Linked DNA regions of Homo sapiens: region 1 is linked to region 2. A link means that fine-mapping ties the variant in region 2 to the expression of a gene that starts in the linked region. Tissue or cell type: whole blood. Region 2 holds a variant in brackets; the other region holds the start of a gene. All regions are shown on one strand. Distances are between the middles of the regions.

What was found. PIP is the estimated chance that this variant, and not a neighbour inherited with it, causes the effect.
Region 1: it holds the start of KRT1, and the variant in region 2 is fine-mapped to the expression of KRT1 in whole blood (TOPMed, PIP 0.98).

Annotation. Positions count from the first base shown.
Region 1 is chr12:52,676,705-52,684,874 of GRCh38, reverse strand. It overlaps KRT1 (keratin 1), which reads left to right and starts at 4,468. Exons shown (of 9, transcript NM_006121.4): 1 at 4,468-5,117; 2 at 6,119-6,333; 3 at 6,652-6,712; 4 at 7,130-7,225; 5 at 7,395-7,559; 6 at 7,691-7,816. The coding sequence starts at 4,527.
Region 2 is chr12:52,651,132-52,659,333 of GRCh38, reverse strand. It overlaps KRT2 (keratin 2), which reads left to right and starts at 7,123. Exons shown (of 9, transcript NM_000423.3): 1 at 7,123-7,776. The coding sequence starts at 7,192. The variant C/A (reference allele first, on the strand shown) is at 4,029.

The DNA.
Region 1 (8,170 bases), 26 kb before region 2:
GAGCAAGATGGGCCCCACCGCCTCTCTCCTCCATGTTCATCTTTGGTTTCCTCCTTCCTGGCCTCTGCTCTGCTCCAGCCTTGCTAGTGAGTGACTCCTGAGGACCTCCTTCTTTGCTGTCCATCCTAAATAGGGCTGCCCCTCTGTCTGCAGCTCTCCCTCCTGCATAAGAAGCCTTGGCCCCTCCTCTGCTGCCTGGCTGCTTTCAACATCTCGCCCCGCCTCCCCATTGTCTGTGATTTCTCTTCACTCCACCCAGGCCTCAATTTTCCTCACTCCCCTGGGATTTCCCTGTCCCATGTCCCTGGTGGAGTCCCTCAGGGCTGGGTGGCTTGTCACTGCATGTCTTTCTTCACTCTTTTCTTGGTCCCATCCCACAAAAGCTCTCAAAACATCACCACACCTGCTCCTGCCCATGCCCCACAGCCAGCCCCTGGCAGCCTCATCTCAATGATCAGTTCTGGGTTGTGTGTGTGAGTCCTTGGGTGGGGGTGTTTTGGTGCTCTGTCATCCAGCACCGCTGGGGTAACTCTCAAGTATAAGGGGCCATGTGGGATGCTGGGAGGACATCAAAAGACACAGGGGACTTAGTCTTGCTTTCCAAAGGCTTCCAGAGTGATTGAGGGGCCAGGAAACACACAAGCACATGCATGAAAATGAGCCAACAAATGCATCAATATGTACTAAGTCTGGCAGCAGCCGAGCTTGGAAAAAGAGACCAATAGAGCACTTGCCCGATGTGGACTGAGGAAAACTCCCTGGAGGAGATGAGATCTGGACCTGTCTGCTGCCTGCTTGAGCGAGAGATGAAGGCATTTGCCCACAAGCCCTGATGGACCAAAAACAGATTCAGGACCAAATGCTCAGGAATTGAGATCTTTGGTGCCCCAGAGCTTGACTATGGGTAGGGATTTGTGGCAAGTTGCCGAGGCAACCAGAAGACCTTTCAGAAAAGAGAAGAGTAGAAGTGGGCTTGGAAGACAGAGAGGAACAGGGATGGAAAGGGAAGAAGAGGGTTGATCAGTCTGGGCAAAGCACGAGAGTGAAGGGGTCAAGGCGTGAGGCCGGGGGAGTGGGTGAGCAGGGTAAGATGTAGGTGGTGCTGGTGGTGAGAGCAGGCCAATGACAGAAGGAGCCCATGTGATGCGGCGGGCTTGGACTCTGGAGTGAGGCAAGCGTGGCTTGTCAGTTACCTGCTGGATGACTTTGGGCACATATTTCAACCTCTATAAACCTAAGATGCCTTTTCTTTAAAATGGGGCTAAGAGCTCCCACGACGCAGACTTTGTGTGGTATTTAAATGCAATGTGGCTCCTAACAGCATAGTTGCTGCCTGTAGATGTTAGTGTCTCTTTCTTTCTCATTTTGTCTTTATTTCATAAATGCACAGTACATAAGTAAGCCAGGAGAGAGTGTGTGGCTCACACCTTTCCTGCATGTGGTTCTTCATATCCCACACACCCACACTGATCCTGGGGACATCACAGGAGATGACGGGCCTGGTCTGGCAGCACTGCAGCTCCAGCTCTGTTGGGCTGCCTCGAAAGTGGGCAGTGGAAAAAGAAAAGGAGTTTGATTCAACAATTGGAAGAGTCTCAGGAATTGACTTATGACTTGGACACTTTTTTTTTTTTTTTTTTTTTTTTTTACTTTTTTGGGCCTGTGCTCTCACTTCTCTGTGAGGCAGGTTAGATGATGTGACCTTTGAGGCCCCATGGATGAGAACATTCTGTAATTCTCTGTGTACTTGTTTATAGGGCCCAGTTCCACTTGCCTGTCTTTGAGCCTCTTCCCGGTTCAGGGAGGAATGTCACTTGAATTGAAATCAGAAAACCCAGATTCTGCTTCCAGATGTGTCTTTTCCTAGCCGGAGTGTCTAGAGGAAGCCACTTAATCTCTGAGAATCAGTTTTCTGTTTCATGAAATGGGTTGAGAACAGCTTGATTGCCTAGTTCTCAGGGCTCTTGTGGGATGCTCTTTGCATATGTGTTTGGTGGGGTGAGCTGTGCAAATGTAAGCTATGGTGAGGTTTATGGCACTTATTCCTGCTAGTCCTGCATTTCTCCCTTCTCACAGGAGCACCTGGGGTATGTTTTGCAGCTAAGTTGTCTACCAATTCCCTGACCATTCATTCAAACCTTTGATTTTTCTGTATGTCAGTTTCTTAGTTCAAAGATGGGAGTGTGGATCACTGCCAAGGTCTGTTTTTGGCTGGCACACACATGCACACAAACATGTGTGCACACAAACATGTGTGCACACACATACTCACACCCCTCCAAAATGCTAGAAGGAATCGATTGTGCAGAACAATATGTCTCATGAGGGAGTATGCTGAACTAAAATAATTTTGATTGCTTGTCAGAAAATGATTAGGCAACAGTCATTACCATGCCAAGACTGTCCCAGTCTCCATTGTTCCTAACAAGACCTGAATTACTCATTCCCTAAAGAGATGGTTGGTTTAGCAGCCGAAGGATTTTAGTGCTAGGACAGAGTCCCAGACAGCAGTGCCACAGTGATGGCGAGGGAGAGGAGTAGCAGGGGAGCGGTGAGGGGCACTTTCTGGAGGAGGGTATAGGGCAAAAACTGGGAGGAGAAGAGGGACAAGGTTCAATAGCGGAGTGCAATGGAGAGGACCGACACAGCCAGCCCGATTCAGAGCCACAGAGTAATGGGACCAGATGATCTTCACAGACTCCCTTTCTCCCATAGATCTTGCACACCATAGTGGAGACTTCCCATGTACATCTATGGTTTGCCACTTACAGAGTTACTTGGAGCCAGCTGAAGTTAGAGCTGGCTTCTCCCCTTTGAGTCTTCAATTCTGTGTTTATGTGCAGGCCCGGGGACCATGCCAGGCTTCTAAGAAGTCTTCGAATGAAAGTCTGCTTGGGCTTCTAGTGTGTCCAGATCTCAGTGCCACTATTATCCACTGATATTGATCAAGTGCTGCTCTCCAGGAAGACCCCTGAGGTTTCCTGGTCCATTGCAATGCATGCTGGGTACTCTTGCACTTGGATGGAAGTAAAATCTCCTCACTAAACTCTGTGCCACCAAAATCTCCTTCTCAGTGTGAATTGAAGAAACATTTTCCAAGACTTGCATGTGCCAGGAGCCAAGGACTCAGAGTGATAAAACAGGCCTTCTGCCCTCAGAGCTCTCTGTGGTGGGGCGCTTCCTGTGCTGTCTGGCTTTACACACAGCAGGCAGAATGACTTGAATTCGGCTGCTGTGCTGTCGTACAACATGCTGTTTAGGATCTTGCACATGATAGCTAGGTATTCTTGCTTCAAATCGCAGGCACCCCACTTACCAACTGTGTAGACTTGATCACGTTATTCAACCCCTGTGTCTCTGCTTCCTCATTTTACAAATGGGGAGAAAAATAGCATCTATCTCAAAGTTGTGAAAATTAAGCAAGTTAATACATATGTGCTACGTAGAACAGTGCCTGGTACATGGTCAGTTTTTGATACATGTTAGGTATTATCATTATTATCACCTCCAGAAACAATTTAAACTTCTCATATAAGGCTCTCCAGACACCTCTCATTGTCTTCCCTTCCAAATCTGCATTTATCTCTCTCTCTTTGCAGTCCAGTGTGAGGCTTGAATCACCTATCAAGCCTCACCTCCACCCCTGTGCTTTACAAAATGTCCTAGAGCTTCTATTTACTCGTCTCACTGCTCTGTGGGCTTTTTCACTCAAGGGCGTTTGCATGCTATCCATTGCTACCTGTTTTCTATTGCTGGTGTCTGTCTCCTGCTCTATCTTTGAAGAAAAGAAACAAGAAAAGGAATAACTGAGAAACAGAGAAAAAAAATGTCTCTCCCTTCTGGTTCTTCCAGACCACCCACTCATCCATCTTGTTCAATGACAGCTTCTCTTCCTTTAATTAATCACTGTGGTATATTTATAAAGCTTATATTTATGAAAGACCTTTTAATTTTTTAGTTATTAAAGCCCTTTCTCTTTGTCAGGTTGTAACTGAGTGAGCTCTGGAGTTTGGAAAGAAGATCTTAGAAATGGGCCAGAGAGCTCCTTCTGAGATCCAAGCACGGGGAATTGCACCTGCTGTGCATGGTAAGAGAGTGTGCTTGGTAGCTCACAAAGGCAAGGTGAGAATAGAAACTTTCATGCCTTTTTGATGGGGGTTATGAAATCCTACCAAGAAACACCAGGTATCAGATGTGGGGTCCTGTTTTCCCAAAGCCACAAATGCTTGAAGGAAGATCTTGTGTGATAAAATAATTACCACATGAACCAATCTTGCATGCACAGCAATTTTGAGAGCCCATCCTGGGAGCTAGGTGTGTAGTGTTTATCGTATTGTTGAGGCTCGTAAAAATCTTGTATGGCTGCAGGCAAGCCAAACCCTTGACAGGCACTGCATCTCCGCTGACTCTAGAAGACCAAGCCCAATTTCTTCCCTGTATATAAGGGGAAGTCTCTATGCTTGGGGTAGAGGAGTGTTTAGCTCCTTCCCTTACTCTACCTTGCTCCTACTTTTCTCTAAGTCAACATGAGTCGACAGTTTAGTTCCAGGTCTGGGTACCGAAGTGGAGGGGGCTTCAGCTCTGGCTCTGCTGGGATCATCAACTACCAGCGCAGGACCACCAGCAGCTCCACACGCCGCAGTGGAGGAGGTGGTGGGAGATTTTCAAGCTGTGGTGGTGGTGGTGGTAGCTTTGGTGCTGGTGGTGGATTTGGAAGTCGGAGTCTTGTTAACCTTGGTGGCAGTAAAAGCATCTCCATAAGTGTGGCTAGAGGAGGTGGACGTGGTAGTGGCTTTGGTGGTGGTTATGGTGGTGGTGGCTTTGGTGGTGGTGGCTTTGGTGGTGGTGGCTTTGGTGGAGGTGGCATTGGGGGTGGTGGCTTTGGTGGTTTTGGCAGTGGTGGTGGTGGTTTTGGTGGAGGTGGCTTTGGGGGTGGTGGATATGGGGGTGGTTATGGTCCTGTCTGCCCTCCTGGTGGCATACAAGAAGTCACTATCAACCAGAGCCTTCTTCAGCCCCTCAATGTGGAGATTGACCCTGAGATCCAAAAGGTGAAGTCTCGAGAAAGGGAGCAAATCAAGTCACTCAACAACCAATTTGCCTCCTTCATTGACAAGGTGAGTTTCTCTCTCATTGCACTGGTAGGGCTGCCGCTGGTCCACTTGGGATTGGTGCAGTCAAAACACAGTAGGTTTGAACCTCAAGTTTCCATGTTTACATGATTAAAAGGATGTTTTGTGGAATGGTCTCCTAGGAGATATGTTAGATGTATGCTTGTGAATGGTGTTAATGACTCTCTCTTTGACAAAGGGTTCGTGGTCGACCTAAAGGTGGGTCAGTGTGACATTAACATTTAAGTGCTTTTTATTCAGCTCTTGAGCGGAATTGGGACTCATATCTGTTGAATGAAGATAATAGAAATGGGGCTAACTGAACTTTCCAGGGTGCAAGTGAGAACCCTGGAAAGGTCTTCCTAACCATAGAAAGGGAGTTGAGTGTGAACATAGTATAGAGTGTTATTGTAGCAGAAAACATGTGGTCAGTCAGTGCCAAACATCTTTTGCTGTCAGAGGGGAGCTCTGCCTTCTAATAATTTTACATTGGTACTGGATGAGGCTAGAGTTTTTTTATACTAATATCTCCAAAAATCAGCTCTAAAAAACTCAGATAAACCATTTTTTTAATTTTTTGCTTAATCATTAATAGTGCCAATCCAAGGTTATCCACAACAAATTTCAAATCCAATTTTGAATTTTCCTGATATACTTTTGAAATGTGTGTGTGTCCTGGGGATGCAAACCAGTTTTTATGGTAATATACCTAACAAAATTTTGGAAGGCAAATCTCTTAAATACCATGCACCTATTTCAAAACATAATTGCAATAATTCTGTATGCGCTTTGCTATTGGTATTTGTTTAGTTACTCCCTTCCAAGCCCTCTCTGAATTAACAAGTTGGGTTTTATTATGCAGATGATATTAACTTGATCATCTTCTTCCTATTTCTCTGTCATGGTCAGAAGATAGGAATTGAGGTTCTTTTCCAAATGAGGCACAGTTCTCCATGGCTATGAGACTCCATTTATGCATCAGGAGTAAAGGGGTCTTGTGTTTTTAGGTGAGGTTCCTGGAGCAGCAGAACCAGGTACTGCAAACAAAATGGGAGCTGCTGCAGCAGGTAGATACCTCCACTAGAACCCATAATTTAGAGCCCTACTTTGAGTCATTCATCAACAATCTCCGAAGGAGAGTGGACCAACTGAAGAGTGATCAATCTCGGTTGGATTCGGAACTGAAGAACATGCAGGACATGGTGGAGGATTACCGGAACAAGTAAGGGACCCTGTCTGGGCAGTTCTTAACTTTTGCTGTAAAAGAGTTCCAGAAAGTAATAAGCTAAGATCATGAAGCAGCATGTAGCTATGTCTTTTCTTAGGTTAGAGGCACATCAGTTTGACATTTTCAGAAATCTTCATTTTCTCAGGAGATGGAAATAGTCTAGTGGTTTTATTGCTCAGTAGAAAGTAGTGGCCAATATGTCCTAGGTTCATAATAGAAAGGCAGTGATAGGCAATGCCACCTTTAGTTTAGAATGCTGGACTTCAGGTCTTACCACCTCTGAATCTCCTAATTGTTTCTGCTTTCCTGCAGGTATGAGGATGAAATCAACAAGCGGACAAATGCAGAGAATGAATTTGTGACCATCAAGAAGGTAAGCAAATTCTGTAGGACGGAACTCACATTTGAAATAAATAAGGGAAGAGGGTCTCCAATTACTAAGCAGAAAGCAGCCATGATATGGAGAGCCAGGTAGTAGACCTGGGGAGTATATGGAGTGGGGCTATATTTTCACATCATCATGGACCTGGACTGATCCAGGCACTTGGCTTCTCCATATTTCCCAGCACCTTACATAGTAAGTGGAGTGGCAGATTCTCAGCAAGCCAGGCACACTCCCTTGATGGTGCTATCCGGGGGTGGGACAGTTAGGGAACTGTGATTTACCTGGGGCAAAAAGGAGTGGAGTAGACCCAAAGCTCCTTTTTTTGCTTGGAGAATCCCCTCACAGGTAATGAGAGGGACCTGCCCTGGAGAGAATGTGCCTTCATGATGTCCCTTGTTCCTCTAGGATGTGGATGGTGCTTATATGACCAAGGTGGACCTTCAGGCCAAACTTGACAACTTGCAGCAGGAAATTGATTTCCTTACAGCACTCTACCAAGCAGTAAGTCTTCCAGTTTCAACCAAGTTTATCTAAATGGAGAGTTTTTAAGCCTGAACCCACAACGATTCAGAAGAATAGATATTTATCTTTTATTTTCTGACTGCTTTCTCTGTCTAAGTTGTTTTTTGTTTTAGTGCTGTAAGAGTCACTAACCTATTATGTCTTGCAGGAGTTGTCTCAGATGCAGACTCAAATCAGTGAAACTAATGTCATCCTCTCTATGGACAACAACCGCAGTCTCGACCTGGACAGCATCATTGCTGAGGTCAAGGCCCAGTACGAGGATATAGCCCAGAAGAGCAAAGCTGAGGCCGAGTCCTTGTACCAGAGCAAGGTGAGTGGGCTGAAAGCCTAGCCAGTTTCCCTGAAATGGCTTGTCTTGCTATCCTGTGTTATCTCATGTATGTGTGCCTGTGCCATGCTGAGTTCTGCCTACATTTAACAAACGCTATCTACCATCTTTAGTATGAAGAGCTGCAGATCACTGCTGGCAGACATGGGGATAGTGTGAGAAATTCAAAGATAGAAATTTCTGAGCTGAATCGTGTGATCCAGAGACTTAGATCTGAAATCGACAATGTCAAGAAGCAGGTATGTGCTTTCTCCTTCTACCACTCAGCTGTATGGAATGGGGGTAACCCTCAGGTAAAGGGCGAGTGCTTTCCTAGTTTTGAATCTTGCAATTCATCCCAAGGCTACATTATTATCCCTGGTTCCTTTTGTGACTATGCTAGTTTCCAGAATGCAGCCATCATGCTGGGTTCTCTTTAGGGAAATCTGTGAGAATGGCCTAGTAGAGAAAGATGGGATGGTCAATGTGAGTGATCTAGCCTATGACCCAAAGTGGACTTAAGAGTTGGGGAGTGAGAGGAAGGGCAGCCAGGAGGTTTTAGAGTAGGTGTTTAGAAGAATGTCAAGTCTGTAAGGGTTGTAGGAGCCTTGACT
Region 2 (8,202 bases):
CATGGCAGTCTGTGTCCATGCCTCTGTCCCCAGAGAGAGCAGGATGAGGGCCTCTGAAACTGGGTATTAACAAGGCCCCAGATAGTTCTCTGCTGTCTTGGCAATGCCACACCGAAGAGGCTGCCCATTGTATTCACACTCCGAGTGGTGGGGAAGGATCCTCACGTTCCCTGGCCTTTCTAGTGGGTGACATGAACTCCCTGGGACATGGGAGGAGGGAGGATCCCCTTTTCCTCACATTCAGTATGATAGTCTACTATACTGCCCCTGCCAACTCCTCCTTGGCCCACCGCCACCCCCACAGCAGCCCTCCCCTCTTTTGTGCTTGCCCACTCACGTCTCTACCCCTTTGGGCCTGAGCAGAAACCCAGAACATCAGACACTGCAAAGGCCTCTGCGTGTGTCTTGATGATTAGTGTCTGCACAGGACCAGGCAGTGGAAAATGTTGGCAGTAATCTGGTTTCATGGATTTGCCCAGACAAGCCTGCCATCATGTCCCCATTCTAAAATTCTGTCACTATCACCTCTCTTTTCCTTACCAGAAAAACCTTATTTCTCCCTAATAGTATGAATGGCATGGAGTTAATCCCTGTACAGAGAGAAGTGCAGGCAACATCTGGTCTTCCAATATATGGACAGCGAGCTGAGTTCATGGATATATTAATGGGCCTCCAGAGGACTCCTGACCAGAAGGAGTGGGTGTCTGGAGCCTCTCCTGAAAGAGGGGTCCTGGGAAGCCCCCAGCATATAGGCTGTAGTGTGTAAGTGCCAGCTGAGTGCCCATGTGGAGGCCTGGTGGGGAAGGCGGGTCCATGCAGAACCATACAGACTTCCAAAGGGTCTTATTGGAGAGCCAATGAGATTGGCATCTTTGGTCTTGATCTGAGTGGGAGAGACACAGCCTGAAGCATGCAAACCCAAACGAGGCAGGGTGTCTAGGCATGAGCCAGGAGCAGCAAAGCAATGCCCACCCAAGGGAGGGGAGAGAACCTGGAGATTTTACACACCCAGAGCCCCCTCCAAACCCAGGCAAACTTTCCACAAAACTTTCCCTAGTGCTTGACATGGAGCTCCAGAAGAGGAGGTAAGGTTCTGCCTGCCCCGGGTATGCCGAGCCCAAGGGAAGAGAAAGAATTAAAGGAGAAGCAACGGACCAGGATCTGAGAAACTTTGTTTAGCTTTTGGAAATGGTGAGAGGTTATTTCAAAGAGACAGTTATTTATGGATCTACTCTACTTCTTGGTATCCTTGAGAAAAACAAGAGATATAAGCCCCTAAGGAGCTTACAGTTGGGGAATCAAGATATAATGAACTCGTGCCTTTTGGGCCCTGACTGATGGCAGCTCCTGCCTGATGGCAAACCCTCCTATTCAGCTGCAGCGTACCTGTTTGCCCTTCTCTCTCCTCTCTGGCTTCCCTTTGTCTACTTTACTGCTGCCATTTCTTCCTTCATCTCTTGGTGAGAAAATAACCGAAAGCAGGGTCTGTGTCTGCACATTTTGTCTCTACGCTTTCCCAGAGTTTGCATCTGCTCTCAGGGCTTTAGCTATTGTGTCCATTTAAAGCACAAACTGATGTCTGAAATGGAAGGAATCGGTGTAGCCCGGCGCCTCCACTTTACAGATGAGAAAATCAAGGCTCAGAAAAGCTGAGGTTCCTTAGGTTCTGGAGGCAGTTGGCCACAGGAATGCATGTCCTCTACCTCCTTATCTAGGAGTCACCCTGTTCCTGTTGGTTTTCAAATCCCTCAGTCCACAGGGGAGGAAAGGGGGACCCAGCAAGGGAGGTGACATGCCAAGGTGACAGGGCTGGCTTCTGGCAGAGGAACCCAACCTTCACTCCTAAACACATTCCTCCCAGTTTATCACATGGCTTCCCTTATAAATGTACTTCTAAATAGAGACTAATATACTTCTTTGAATACCCAATGGACTATGAATTGTGCCTATGGCTCATAAAAATATAATTCAGGTCGTAAATTTAATAATCTCACATGAATGACTATACTAGCTCTGTTAAACATTAATTGCTTAATTAGCAATGATTCCACCTGCTTTTTTAGAATTGAAAGGCTTTTAAAGAAGAGCCTGTGGTGGAAAAAAAAAGCCGTCCAGAGAATTTTGAGCAGTTTTATTTTCCTTTTTTTCTTTGCTTCATAAAAATCCCTGGAGCAATCAGGTCATTCAGAATCAAGCCTTTGGCCTTTGCTTCCAACGTGAGGCATCCCAGCACCCACAGTCTGACGGTGTGTCTAAAACCTTTGTTGCTAGAAAGAGGAGCAGGAGTCTCTTGAATTTGGTCTTATAAAATTCAATTAACTTTCATGCTTACTCTCTCTCTGATTTTTTGGTGGGGGGATGTTTTCCCACCTGCCTTCTTCTGCAATGATCTCTATCCGAACAAATGCAGGAAGCCTTGAAAGAGCTCACAAGGGGGTGGCGGCAGCTCTCAGTGATGGGACAGAGAGGTGGGGCTGGTGTGGGAGAGCAGGTGAGGGCTGGGATGTCTCTTAGAGCTTCCTGTGGTGCATGGCACAGGCTGCTGCTGAAGAACTGGCGAATGCCCAGGTGGAGGCATCCAAAGTGAATTCCAGCTGTCAGTGGCAGCAGCACAATATAGCATTAGTTGGAAGGCTCCTCTAGATGGAGAAGTTGGGTAAGAAGGGGGCAGCATTAAATCTGGTGAAACCTGGAGAAGTCTGCACTGTGAGGGTGGCGTGAGTGGTATGATTACAGCGACTCCATTTTTCTGAAATCATGACCAGGATGGGATGGAGTATTTCACAGCTGTCTTGTCCTTCCACATTTGTGTGGCTACACAGATCATGGACAAAATATGAATATCAGTGCAAGAGCAGAAGGAGAACGTGGTCCGGGGAAACAGTTCGGCTGGAGTGAGGACTGCACCTGGGAAGGGCAAGAGCTTTTCACAGACGACCCTTTGAGGCTTTCTCTGTGTGAATGAAGACTTGCTGTAGTTGGGAACACACAGCCACATGTCACACTAGTATCATTAACTAGACCACAGTTTAGCAAACAAGGCCCAGGCCCCCGGGAGTTGCAGTAGCCTATGGCATACAGCAGAGCTAATTCAACTGGAGACTGATCCCACTGAGAATAAAGCTGAACTGTGTCACTTGCCATTTTCTGGGTCAGATATTCTGGGGTCCATTTGGAAAATTAGACCTATACATGACATGGCCTTGGCTATGGGAAAGGAGGTGACTCGCTCTGTGCTAGGCGCTGATGGCTCATATCCTCTTGCTAGACAGCTGTCTTGTTCAACCAACATGTGTAGGGTCCCTGCTGTGCACTGGGCAGTGTCCCTGCCCTCTCTCCTCTTCTGCTTCTGGGGCCAGCATTGTTTCTGAGCAGAGGACACATCCTGCTTTCCTGATAAGCCTGCCGTGTGTGTCCTGGAATCTCCTCGTTCCAGAATGGGCTCTGTACAGTGGGAATGTTTGGTGCTTCATGCTCAGGGTGGACGTGGCTGCCTGCCAGCCTGGCTCCTCAGTCATAACCAGTTTGGCCAGAGCACCTGAAAATCAAACAGCTACCTGTCTCGCTGTAAGAAAAGGGGCCGATCGAAAAAAAAAAAAAAACTGAAAAGGAGATGTTAGGTAAGAAAGGAGGGGAGCCTGGGCCAAAATGGAGAACTGGGTCAGGGGCTGGGAAGAGAGACTGAGTAGGCAGTTTTAAAATGATCATTTATGAAGGAATGCCCTGGAGGGAGGTGTTGAGCAAGTCTCTCCTGCTGGGTGTCTGTCAGCCTCCTGTCCCTTCTTTTCTGGGAGCCATGGGAGCTGCAGAGCTCCTTGGAGCAGCACCTGGGCGCTCTGATGGAAGGTACCCGGAGCCAGCAGCCCATGCAGAGGCCAGGCAGCCGCTGCCCATGGAGGCTTCTGCTTCCAGCTGACCTGCTGCTCAGCTTGTTCCAGCCTCCTGCTGACTCGCCTCTCTGTCTTCCTAACTTCTTTCATGACGTTATTGGACTCTCTAAGGATTTTGGTCCTCTTGAGCAGCCTGAG[C/A]CCAGCAGCAGGGGCTGGAAGAGGAGGGTTTTTTTTTTGTTTGTTTTGGTTCGGTTTTCTTAAACCCAAACTCTTGGTTTCCATTCCAAGGTGGTAGGAGCCAGATGCCCCGAGGGCTCAGCAGCCGTCTCCAGCTGATGCACTGAGTCTTTGGGAAGGAGAGACTAAACTCACTGGCTGGAGGAGAGAACCCTGATCAGGGCTGAGACAGAAACCTGAGACAACTCCAAGTGGGACCTTTAGGCAACAGGTCCATGAAAGGCTGCGAAGACTTCAAGCATTGCCAGCATCACATGCACACATCTGGAAACACCTGCAATTCCAAACCAAAAACCAGAGAAATGATTTTTTTGGAATACAGGCTTATTCTTCAAGTGATTCTCTGTGCTGAGGGGATAAAGGTTTGGGTTAAAGATAAATATGACCTTGCCTCTACCCTACAGAAGTCCTGGGACATGGTTCATTGTCACACAGGGAGGACTGTGATGATGAGGCTGTAAGGCAGGTAGATACGCCACTGCTAAAGGAGAACAGAAGAGAGGGAAATGAATTCTTACCTGGAGACTCTGGTGTTAGCATCCACACTAGGTTGAGCATTTATTTCCTGTTGGCTAGACAGTTAACCCCTTCTCTGCTTAATACTGGGGGCTCATTTTTTCTGCCCCACTGGCCAATAGACGAGCTTTTGAAACACTATGAGGAGAAGCATTTAGGATCTTGGACTTGCTGGCAGTTTGTTGAAAGAAAAAGTGGGGAACAGGAAGAAGGATTTTGTTCTATAGGATTCCTGTTCTCTTCTCAGAGACAGTGAAGCTTAACACTCTTTGCAGCAATAGCTCGATGTCCTTGTGGGACAGTAGGGATTCAGGATAAATATTCCTATTTTATAGATGAAGAAATTGAGGATACCAGTTGCGTAGAGGCAAAATCACAACCAGACCAAGATTCTTAACTTCCATTTCACTCTCTTAAAGAATGCAAAGCATATTATCTAGGAAAGCACATTGAGATTATGTAAAAGTTGAAAATTTAAAAATATAGAAATAAAATGTTACATAATATTCAAATTGCATTAATTCTAGTCTCCACATTTCAAAAGAGTAGGAGGACTCTTTCAACTTGACTTTCAAAAATTGGTGAATGGGTCTAGAAGGAGAAGATGTTCAGTGGAGAGAGTGGGGAGGGAGACCAGGGTGTGAGGGCAGAATTAAAATGCAGTAAAACATGCAGATTGGGTGCCTAGCACAAATCTGGCTCAATTTCCTTCATAGAGGCATTAAGACCCCCCTGAAGCTGCCATAGTGTGAGCACAGTCATGGTGGAGTAAGGGACGACTAGGGCATTGCTCAGATATCTGTAGATAATGACACATTTTGCTTTGGATTGAGACTGTCTCCAAAGCTGTTAGCTTCATGATTTGTTTGCATGATTATAATTATGCAAACCAGATTGGAAAAAATAATTGAGGAGACATGTAGCTTTGTTTCCTTCAGCATTCTTTTACTGCAAATTAAATACCTTGAATAGTAGTTAAGACAGGATTGGAAACTTGGCGGGGAAGATGCAGAAGGGTGAATAGCATTTATTGAGTTTCTGCTATGAACTAGGAACTGTGTTTAGCACATGTGTGTATTGTTCTGTTTTCACAGTAGCCATATTCTTATTATTCTTGTTCACTTTTTATAGATGAGGAAACTGAGGCTTGAAGAGGATTATGGATTATCTGAGGTCATTTAACTAAGATACAAGAAAATTGGGATTTGACCTCAAACTTATGTTTTTTACATTATTTTGTGATAACTTGGTACTAGGATCTGAACCACCTGGTTCTGTAATTTATGATGCCTGTGGAGAGTGCATGTTCATAGTAGCCAGAAGACAGTAACATGGCAAGGGGGAAAGGAAAAGGAATTATCTTTGTCTCACCCCAAACAATAATGATACTGACATTTTATTGTGCACGGTGGTTTTCAAAACACTTCATACGAATTTCCCATTTTATAGCTGGGACCACAGAGCCTCAGGGTTTCATTCAAGGCCTCACAGCCAATAAATAGCAAAACTGGGACTCAAACCCAGAATTTCTGACTAAATTCAGTTTTATTACTCCAAGAACCTCTCCCACATAGTTGGCCACATGGACAGAGGAAGTGGTTGAGTTTAAGTGTGAGTGCTCTGTGCAGGCTGGATGGTCTTCTTATCCTCAAGCATCTGTGGATGTCATTGAAGAGCCTGACTTCCTAATCACTTCCCAGGATCACCAGGCAATACGTGATTACTGACTGACTGAATCAATATACACTTGGATCTTGGTTTGCAAACTTTCACTTGGTGTCCCGCATCACACAGGTCCAGAAACAGCGAAACTTTTCTCATACCTCTCAACCTCTGGGTGTTCATGTAGACAAGGGACAGTTGATGGTTATACAAACCATCATGGTTATAAAAAATCTCTATTCGGTGCCTAGTTATTGTGTATTTTTGGTGTGGCATGGGAAGAAAAGAGCCAAGATATTTTGAAAATCGACACCTCTTTTGCAGTATCCGAGGCCAATTACTTTCTGTAAGAGGAGGTCGATTTCCAATTAGCATTTAAGGTCATTTAAGACCTTTGCAGTCTCCCCTGCACTAGTTGGGGCTCTTTCTGGGAAAGAGGGAAACTACAAGAGAACTACAAGGCTGGCATTGAGGGGCTCTTGCAGTCTCTAAACCCACCATCCCTTTCATTGTTGAACTGGGGTGGTGAGCCTGCACAAGCATGGGTGGTAGCTGACTTCCCTTGGGCAGGTCCAGAACAGGGAGCAGCATTCTGCAGAAGGTCCTTTTCCAGATTGAGAAACCCAAACCCTGATCTCCTCTTTTGATGATTTTACAAAAATCAAATTGCATGACAGATGCCCAGATAAACAGAAGTTTGCAATCAAAGCAAGTTCTGGGATGGAGCTGATTAGTAGATTTTTAATGGCTATTAGCTTGATAATCACGCACCAGGAATAGCTCCCAGGCAGACCAAACCCACGTATAAGTGGATCCACACCCATGTACACAACACCTAGTTGGCAGGTATATAAGGGGACCCTGAAAGCCTCCCAGCAGCACAGTTGAGTCTCCAGCCTTGACTCTTCTCAAGAGCCTGTGACTTTCCTCCCTGGACAAAGGCATCATGAGTTGTCAGATCTCTTGCAAATCTCGAGGAAGAGGAGGAGGTGGAGGAGGATTCCGGGGCTTCAGCAGCGGCTCAGCTGTGGTGTCTGGTGGAAGCCGGAGATCAACTTCCAGCTTCTCCTGCTTGAGCCGCCATGGTGGTGGTGGCGGGGGCTTCGGTGGAGGCGGCTTTGGCAGTCGGAGTCTTGTTGGCCTTGGAGGGACCAAGAGCATCTCCATTAGTGTGGCTGGAGGAGGTGGTGGCTTTGGCGCCGCTGGTGGATTTGGTGGCAGAGGAGGTGGTTTTGGAGGCGGCAGCAGCTTTGGAGGTGGCAGCGGCTTCAGTGGTGGTGGTTTCGGTGGAGGCGGCTTTGGTGGAGGCCGCTTTGGAGGTTTTGGGGGCCCTGGTGGTGTTGGAGGTTTAGGGGGTCCTGGTGGCTTTGGGCCTGGAGGATACCCTGGTGGCATCCACGAAGTCTCTGTCAACCAGAGCCTCCTGCAGCCTCTCAACGTGAAAGTTGACCCAGAGATCCAGAATGTGAAGGCCCAAGAGCGTGAGCAGATCAAAACTCTCAACAACAAATTTGCCTCCTTCATTGACAAGGTGACTCTGGAGAAGACGGCTCCCACTGATGCTCAGGCCACTTCACTTCCAGAGCCAACCAAAAAGAAAATGGCACAGATTTGTATTTCTTAGGAGCCAGTGGTGTACCGCAGTAGCCTGGGTCATTTGCGGTTTCCAGATGGAAAAGACGCCAGCTTTGTGGGTTACATTTCCCATAACAGCCTGCACTTAGGAAGCATTTGTCCCTTTGACCTTATTGTTACAGTCCATATAAATAATATTTATGGAAAATTCTGAAAACCATAAAAAATGGATATAGGCAAGTATTGAACTGATCCTTGGGACAGGCCACTGGAGCAGCAGGTTTTGGAAGCCATCGTCTTCTGAGATAGTGTTTCCTTCCTTAGCAGTGATTACTAAACTCTGGGAAGCTGAACCTGAAATATCTGCTTGGGAATGCAGGAA